2 linked regions of the Homo sapiens genome follow. The protein of the gene in region 1 purifies or fractionates together with the protein of each later gene. This does not show direct contact. Each region holds a gene or a part of one and is shown in the gene's direction. Other genes may lie near its edges.

What was found.
Region 2: the proteins of PDC (region 1) and PLXNC1 purify together in Homo sapiens (affinity purification with mass spectrometry; one large-scale study listed by BioGRID and IntAct). This does not show direct contact.

What each region holds. Positions count from the first base shown.
Region 1 is NC_000001.11:186,443,815-186,447,625, reverse strand, and holds part of PDC (phosducin), read left to right. Parts: intron 1-1,048; coding exon 1,049-1,200; intron 1,201-3,119; coding exon 3,120-3,647; 3' UTR 3,648-3,811. UniProt on the Homo sapiens protein: May participate in the regulation of visual phototransduction or in the integration of photoreceptor metabolism. Inhibits the transcriptional activation activity of the cone-rod homeobox CRX.
Region 2 is NC_000012.12:94,147,042-94,151,582, forward strand, and holds the start of PLXNC1 (plexin-C1 precursor), read left to right. Parts: upstream 1-1,535; 5' UTR 1,536-1,930; coding exon 1,931-2,992; intron 2,993-4,541.

The sequences.
Region 1 (3,811 bases):
TTAAAGGTGTAGATATAGCTAAGCTTTAGTGAAGGATAGTCAGTTTAATATTCCTTGTTTTAAAGAATTTAAGACTTTCTTAAATGAATAACGTTGTTAGTCATCAGGTCAACTGAATATCAGAATTCCAGTTGAATCATCCTTCATTTAATTAGTTTTACTTAAATCTGCCAATCTGGCCGGGCACAGTGGCTCACACTTGTAATCCCAGCACTCTGGGAGGCTGAGGTGGGCAGATTACTTGAGGTCAGCAGTTCAAGACCAGCCTGGCCAACATAGTGAAATCCCATCTCTACTAAAAATACAAAAATCAGCCAGGCGTGGTGGTATGCGCCTGTAGTCCCAGCTACTCGGGAGACTGAGGCAGGAGAATCACTTGAACCCAGGAAGTGGAGGTTGCGGTGAGCCAAAATCACGCCCCTACACTTCAGCCTGGGCAACAGAGCAAGGCTCCATCTCAAAAAAAAAAATAATCTGCCAATCCTATTCTTTCTATGTTTGCAAAATATGCCTAGAATCTTAGAAGAATGGGATGTTCTCGTAATAATTTTCCTAAAGCCATTTTAGTTTTGTTGAGGTCAGGCCCCCTGCTCACCAGTTGTTTTTTATATACTATTGTTATTTTGTTTCCCCAACATTCCCAGTTTCCTTTATTAATACTGTAATGCCAATTTTAGTTTGTTGCTGAAGTTTTTTTCTTAGGTAATAAAAGTGCTATTTTTTCCAAAATTCTAGTATCCTATCAGGACTCTAATTTTTAAATATATTAACCCCAACCTTTTGCCAGTAGTTCAAAGTGCATAATTTATATTTTCATTAGTACAAATGTTTCCGAAATATCCTTTACCAAAACCCATTTAACAAGATTAATGTGGGAGCATATTTTTATGAGCAGGGCAGTCAGAAATTTCTAGTCCAAACAAGATGTTTGTTTCTGATGCAGGAGACAATAAGTTTATTCCATGACAATACTTACACAAATTTCAATTATGCCAACAGTCCTTTTGAAAATAAAAAGGAAAACAATTTATTTTTAATTTCATTCCAGGACCCAAAGGAGTAATAAATGATTGGAGAAAGTTTAAATTAGAGAGTCAAGACAGTGATTCAATTCCACCTAGCAAGAAGGAGATTCTCAGGCAAATGTCTTCTCCTCAGAGTAGGAATGGCAAAGATTCAAAGGAACGAGTCAGCAGAAAGGTAAGATAATACAAAAAGCAGTAATAAATAATTTACAATGTGTTTTCTAATCTAAATCAATCTAGAGAATCACTTTAGACTATTACAAAATATATTCATTACAATATTGCTTACGCTGGCAAAAAAAAATGGAAATGAAGTGAACACCTATTGTGGCATTCTATACTAAGAACAGGTACAGTTATGAAAAGAATTCGTTACGAATACATGAGCTGACCTAGAGATAGTTTCACAATATGAGAAAGCAACATACAGAGAATTCCATCTGGGGAATTGTAACAAACCTGCTCCACTTGTTTTGAAAACATGTAAAGAAAAAATAAATGTAAAACTATTTTGAAACATGTAAAATACTACACAAATGTAACACATAATCACTATTAAAAATTTTATGCTAAGGTTAAACTTTGGAAATGTATCTGAATGCCTACATATCCATATGCCTGAATATGTGAATGAAACAAGTTTTCATATAAATGCTCAAATACATCTTCAAGTCAAATTTGTGTGGTTTGATCTGTTAAATTAACAGAACTATAGCAACAACTTAAAAATTATATGAAACATTGGAAATTTTTAGGATTAAAACTAAATTGGGACAATATTATTATTATTATTACTATTATCATTTTGAGACAGAGTCTCATTCTGTCACCCCAGCTGGAGTGCAGTGGCGCAATCTTGGCTCACTGCAACCCCTACCTCCTGGGTTCAAGCGATTCTCCTGCCACAGCCTCCCAAGTAGCTGGGACTACAGGCATGTGCCACCATTTTTTGTAGAGATGGAGTTTCACTATGTTGCCCAGTCTGTTCTCCTGGGCTCAAACAATCCACCTTCCTTGGCCTGCCAAAGTGCTGGGATTACAGGCATGAGCTCCCATACCCATCCCGGGACAGTAATCTTAAAACAGAAAAAAATATGATAAGGAAAAGAATGAGGACATTAGGGAAACAAATATAAGAAACAGAAGCAAAAGAAAGAAGTAATGAAAGCATCATAAACTTTTACTTAACTTAAATCTCAGTGTCTTCTGTAAAATGACACTAATAGTACCTACCTCAGAGGTTATCTGTAAGGATTAGATAACATAATCTACGTGAAGTACCCAACACCTGGTATGTTTTTCATAAACATTAGTTTCACGTGTTCTCAATTCTCCTCTACTTTAAAAATCCATGGTTCTGAGCTGCTCCACATCTATTAATCACACTATGCCCCATTGTTCCTTTATACCTTTTTTTCTTTTTTGGTTGGGGGAATAGGTGCTTAATATTCTGTTAAATACATTAATAATGGAGTAGCTATTATGGAAGGCCCTGCAGGTGACTTTTTATTCCAACTGCAATGAAAAGTAGCTATCTTAGAAAATGGAATTTGGGCCTTTTCTTACTTCAGCCCAAACTAGTGAATAATAATACCCTGGAGGGCTTGTTAAAATATGGATTACTTAGCCTCACTCTTATAGGTTCTAATTCAGTAAACCTAGGGTGGTGCCCAAATATTTGCATTTCCTAGAAGTTCCCAAGTGATGCTGATGCTGCTGGTCCAAAAATTAACCTCTTGGATGATCTGATGAACTCCAAATAGTAGGAAAAGCTGTCTTACTTGAATTTTTTGGATATTCAAAAAAATCAGTAAGTTATAAGATATAATAGTGTTTGTTGCTATAAAGAAAATAAACCAGCATAAAGATGGAGAGTGTGAGATGGGGACCTTTTTAGGTAAAGTAATCAAGGAAGGTGACATTTAAACAAAAGCTTCAATGAGGTGAAAGAGAAAGGCACATCAGGAGTGAAAGGTAGGTGGTCCAGGCAGAAAAAAAAGAGCAAAAGTACACTCCTTCGGTTGAGAATGGGCTTGGTATATCTAAGGAATAAAACTTCTGACTTAATAATTTCTATCATTTCTTTATTCTCAGATGAGCATTCAAGAATATGAACTAATCCATAAAGAGAAAGAGGATGAAAACTGCCTTCGTAAATACCGTAGACAGTGTATGCAGGATATGCACCAGAAGCTGAGTTTTGGGCCTAGATATGGGTTTGTGTATGAGCTGGAAACTGGAAAGCAATTCCTAGAAACAATTGAAAAGGAACTGAAGATCACCACAATTGTTGTTCACATTTATGAAGATGGTATTAAGGGTTGTGATGCTCTAAACAGTAGTTTAACATGCCTTGCAGCAGAATACCCTATAGTTAAGTTTTGTAAAATAAAAGCTTCGAATACAGGTGCTGGGGACCGCTTTTCCTTAGATGTACTTCCTACACTGCTCATCTATAAAGGTGGGGAACTCATAAGCAATTTTATTAGTGTTGCTGAACAGTTTGCTGAAGAATTTTTTGCTGGGGATGTGGAGTCTTTCCTAAATGAATATGGGTTACTACCTGAAAGAGAGGTACATGTCCTAGAGCATACCAAAATAGAAGAAGAAGATGTTGAATGAAGATTCACTATGTCAATATCTCATGTTTATCCTTTAGGTATTGGATGATGGTTTTGGTAGTATCTATATTGCTTTAGTGAACACAGAGTATGGGCACGGCTATGCTAACTTGACAAAAATGACTGATGCAACAATCGAGTTATTAGCATTTCTTAGTATTAGTT
Region 2 (4,541 bases), on another chromosome or scaffold:
CAGCATCTCGAGCTGGGGAACTTGGAGGGAAGGAAGAAAGGGGATAGCAGCCAATTGCCCTCCCTGGGGCCTGGGGTCTGGAAATAGCCTGGGAAGGAACAGAGATCATTTCCCAACGATCCATAGAGGTCCTCAGCACCCTCCACTCCTATGCACCCCCTGGCTCATCTGCCAGACTGTAAGGGTGCTGATGGTGCCCGCAGCTGCCCCGGGAAGCTGGGAGGCATTTGTGCATCCTCTGGGAAGCCCCATTCCGAGAAATCATGAACCTATTCCCCAGTGGGCAATGATTCCCTGTGCTTCAGAAATTCTTGGCGGCTGTGGGGGCAACCCAGCTGTTATTCACCCTCTGGGTGAGGTGGTGAGACCTCAGGGGGTCCAAAGGATAAAAGTGGGTAATGATGAGACAGATGGAGAGCCTCGAGGGAAATACGGGGACTTGGGTCTAATAGTAGAAAGCAGGGCGGGGGCTGGTTGGTGCATTTAACTTGAGGAACTTTTCAGTCTCACTACAGAGAATGATCTCTGGGGGATTATGGCAATGGCCACAGGTGGCACTTAACTAGAGCCAGGTATGTAAGAGGCCCTGGGGCTAGATATGGATTCGAATCTCGGCTCTGATATCTACCAGCAGTAGAATGCCAGCACGTTCCACAACCTTTCTATAACCATTCTCCTGGACTACTAAGTAGGGATGACAATAACAGTCACTAATTAATAGGGCTGTTATGAGAATTATGAGTCTTAACCCATGTGGTGAGTTCACAAGCGCACCCGGCACGTAGTAAGTGCTCAGTAAATGTTAGCCCCGCTCATTAGGTTAGATGGTGAGCAGAACTTTCCAAGTGCTAGGCTTGAGAGCCTGGGACTCTGTTGCCAAGGGAGATTAGAGAACCTTTGCAAATATGGGCGCTCCGGCCCTGGGGATTGTCCAGAACGAGAGTGTGGCGCCTGCCTTTCTGCCACCTCACTCATCCGACCCGGGGAAACCCACACCCTGTCACAGGGGCGCCTTGGTCCCCGGAGTCTCCGGCTCGGCCATGTCTCCCGCGCGCCTCCCCGGGGCCTCCCTCTCGCCGCTCCACACCTGTCAGCCGCTCTCGCAGCAGCCCTGTGGCCCGAGCCCGGGGCCTCAGCTGCAACCCCTTCGCACCCTGGATCCTCGCTCCGCGCGCCTGGCGTATCCCCGACCCGGCTGCTGTCGTAAACAAAACCGGGCGTTGGAGCAGCACCGCGGGCGGACGGGCGCGGGAGCCCGCTCCGTGCGCCGTTAGCGCGCCCCGGGAGCCCCAGGCGAGCCAAGGGGGCGATGGTGGCGGCCGCGGCGGCCGCGGCGGGCGGCTGAGCTTTGTTATGAATAGATGAAAGAGGCCACCTACACAGTAACCCAAATTACGAGACCTCCCTCCTCCCTATCTCACCGAATCAAGAGGGGAGGGGAGATGGGCGTGGAGGGAGGGCGGGCGGGCGGGCAGGAGGCGGAGGGCGGAGGAGGAAGAGAGGATGAGGAAGGGGGCCAGTTGCATCCCACTTTCACAATGGGAAAGTGAAACGCACAAGCGCACCCAACCTCTCCAGCCCTCCCCGCCCGCCTCGCTCCTCTCCGCCCGTCCCCTCCCTTCCCCTCCGCGCCTCCCCGCGAGCGCCAGCGCTGCACACAGGAACTCTCCGGCGAAGGAGGGCGAGGAGGAAACGGTGCCGGAGCGCGCAGGGCTTGCTGCCGCCACCGCCGCTGCACAGGCTGCCGGAGCGAGCCTGCCGCGCGCCGCCCTCCCCGCTCTCCTTCCTGGGCGAGCTGCGGGGATGGGGCGGCCGCGGGAGCCCGAGCGCGCGCAGGAACCGCCGCCGCCGCCGCCCGCGTCTCCGTTGCCGCGCGCCTGAGCCGCCGTCGCCGCCGCGCGCCCTGCCCGGGGGCGGCCCCCCCAGCCCCATGGAGGTCTCCCGGAGGAAGGCGCCGCCGCGCCCCCCGCGCCCCGCAGCGCCACTGCCCCTGCTCGCCTATCTGCTGGCACTGGCGGCTCCCGGCCGGGGCGCGGACGAGCCCGTGTGGCGGTCGGAGCAAGCCATCGGAGCCATCGCGGCGAGCCAGGAGGACGGCGTGTTTGTGGCGAGCGGCAGCTGCCTGGACCAGCTGGACTACAGCCTGGAGCACAGCCTCTCGCGCCTGTACCGGGACCAAGCGGGCAACTGCACAGAGCCGGTCTCGCTGGCGCCCCCCGCGCGGCCCCGGCCCGGGAGCAGCTTCAGCAAGCTGCTGCTGCCCTACCGCGAGGGGGCGGCCGGCCTCGGGGGGCTGCTGCTCACCGGCTGGACCTTCGACCGGGGCGCCTGCGAGGTGCGGCCCCTGGGCAACCTGAGCCGCAACTCCCTGCGCAACGGCACCGAGGTGGTGTCGTGCCACCCGCAGGGCTCGACGGCCGGCGTGGTGTACCGCGCGGGCCGGAACAACCGCTGGTACCTGGCGGTGGCCGCCACCTACGTGCTGCCTGAGCCGGAGACGGCGAGCCGCTGCAACCCCGCGGCATCCGACCACGACACGGCCATCGCGCTCAAGGACACGGAGGGGCGCAGCCTGGCCACGCAGGAGCTGGGGCGCCTCAAGCTGTGCGAGGGCGCGGGCAGCCTGCACTTCGTGGACGCCTTTCTCTGGAACGGCAGCATCTACTTCCCCTACTACCCCTACAACTACACGAGCGGCGCTGCCACCGGCTGGCCCAGCATGGCGCGCATCGCGCAGAGCACCGAGGTGCTGTTCCAGGGCCAGGCATCCCTCGACTGCGGCCACGGCCACCCCGACGGCCGCCGCCTGCTCCTCTCCTCCAGCCTAGTGGAGGCCCTGGACGTCTGGGCGGGAGTGTTCAGCGCGGCCGCTGGAGAGGGCCAGGAGCGGCGCTCCCCCACCACCACGGCGCTCTGCCTCTTCAGAATGAGTGAGATCCAGGCGCGCGCCAAGAGGGTCAGCTGGGACTTCAAGACGGCCGAGAGCCACTGCGTAAGTCCTGCCCCCGGGGCGCCGCGGAGAGCGCTGCTGCCGGGGAGCCGCCGCCGCCGCCGAGGCAGAACGAGCTGGGGGCGAGCGGCGGGGCGGGGGTACAGCCGGGTGACATTTACCAGGTCTCAGGTTCACACCGCGGGCGGCCGTCCGAAGGCTCCTCTCGGACGGTCCCCGAGACCTGGAGCACGGCCTGAGGTCCCCAAAGGGAGAGTGTAAAAAGGGGGGCGGGGAGGGTTGGAGTTAGACTCAAAACTCTAGTGGCTGCATCCCATTGCCATCCTTCCCTGTCCAAACGGGGACGCTTGTTTGGGGCTGAGTCTCCTCGCGCAGCCCCTCTTTCCCATTCGCTTCTCCAGACTTCTCTGTGCCCCTTCCGTGTAGTCCCAGCAGGCGTGTGGGTCTGACCCTCTTGGTCAACAGTTAGCAACACAGTGCCCTCGGCAGAGAAGCCATTGAACCTAAAGGGCTCCCTGCCACACCCCAGCCTTTGTGGCCCCCTGTCTCCGCCCCCCACCGGCAACGCAAGTGCTGTGGTCTGAAGAGTTGCTAGCCCGCTCAGCGTGGAGAAATGCCAGCCTGCAACAGAGGCTTGCGCTGGAACCGAACCCCTGGCGTGAGCCGGTGCGAGGGGGCGGTGCCGTGGCTCTGCTCAGGGTGCGCTGTGGTCGCCAGCCGCCGGGAGAGGCTGGGCGGGAGGTGGCCTTGTGGTAAAAGCCTCATCCTAGAGGGGAGTGCAAGGGAAAGTGTTGGGGGTGCTACAGGCAGTTTCTGGGCTCCAGATTGCGAGACTAGATGGCGGGACTCAGAGTCACCACCCTGGGGCTGAACCAGGCAAGCGATACAGGTTTCCCCTGGGCTCCCAGGGCAGCCACAGCTTTTATCTTGAGATTGGCATTTCTTTGACTGGAAAATAAAGAGGCAGTTCAAGAGGGTCCAGTTGATGGGGATTATGGAGCCATTGTGCACTTCTCCGGAGGCCGTTTCCCTTCCAAGGCGGCTGGCACATCAACTCCACATATGGCTCCTGAGAGGGGAGCCTGCTGGGAGCCTCCTTTATAACTGGACAAAAATCAAAGCGCAGAAATTAACGGCTACAGGTGTTGCCATTGTTTTGGTACAAAATGAATCAGAGAGGAAGGGGAGAAGTCACTGCTTGGAAAATGTGTTGATACAGGGGCACGTTGGCTCCCAGGTATATTAATATGTGTATAGAAAGACAGCTTCCCCCACCCCCTTCTTTCTCTGCAAAGCACATCTTACCAAATATTAGCCCTATGAGCCAGGGAGAAAAAAACCAGGAGGTCTTTTGCAAGGCTTCTTAGAACGGTCACTTGCTGCTGCTTCTTTGCCTGTCAAGCTGTGTGCTGGGACACACACATTAAGGCCTTCATTTTGTTACTGGTATAATTTTTAAAAATATGTAAAAACACATATTTGCCTCCTAAATGACTTGCTGTTGCCGTACACATATAATGTAATATTTGATTCCTGTCTTTATTAGATCTTTATAATCTAACGGTTTAAGTTTGGTAAAATTATCGTTTCC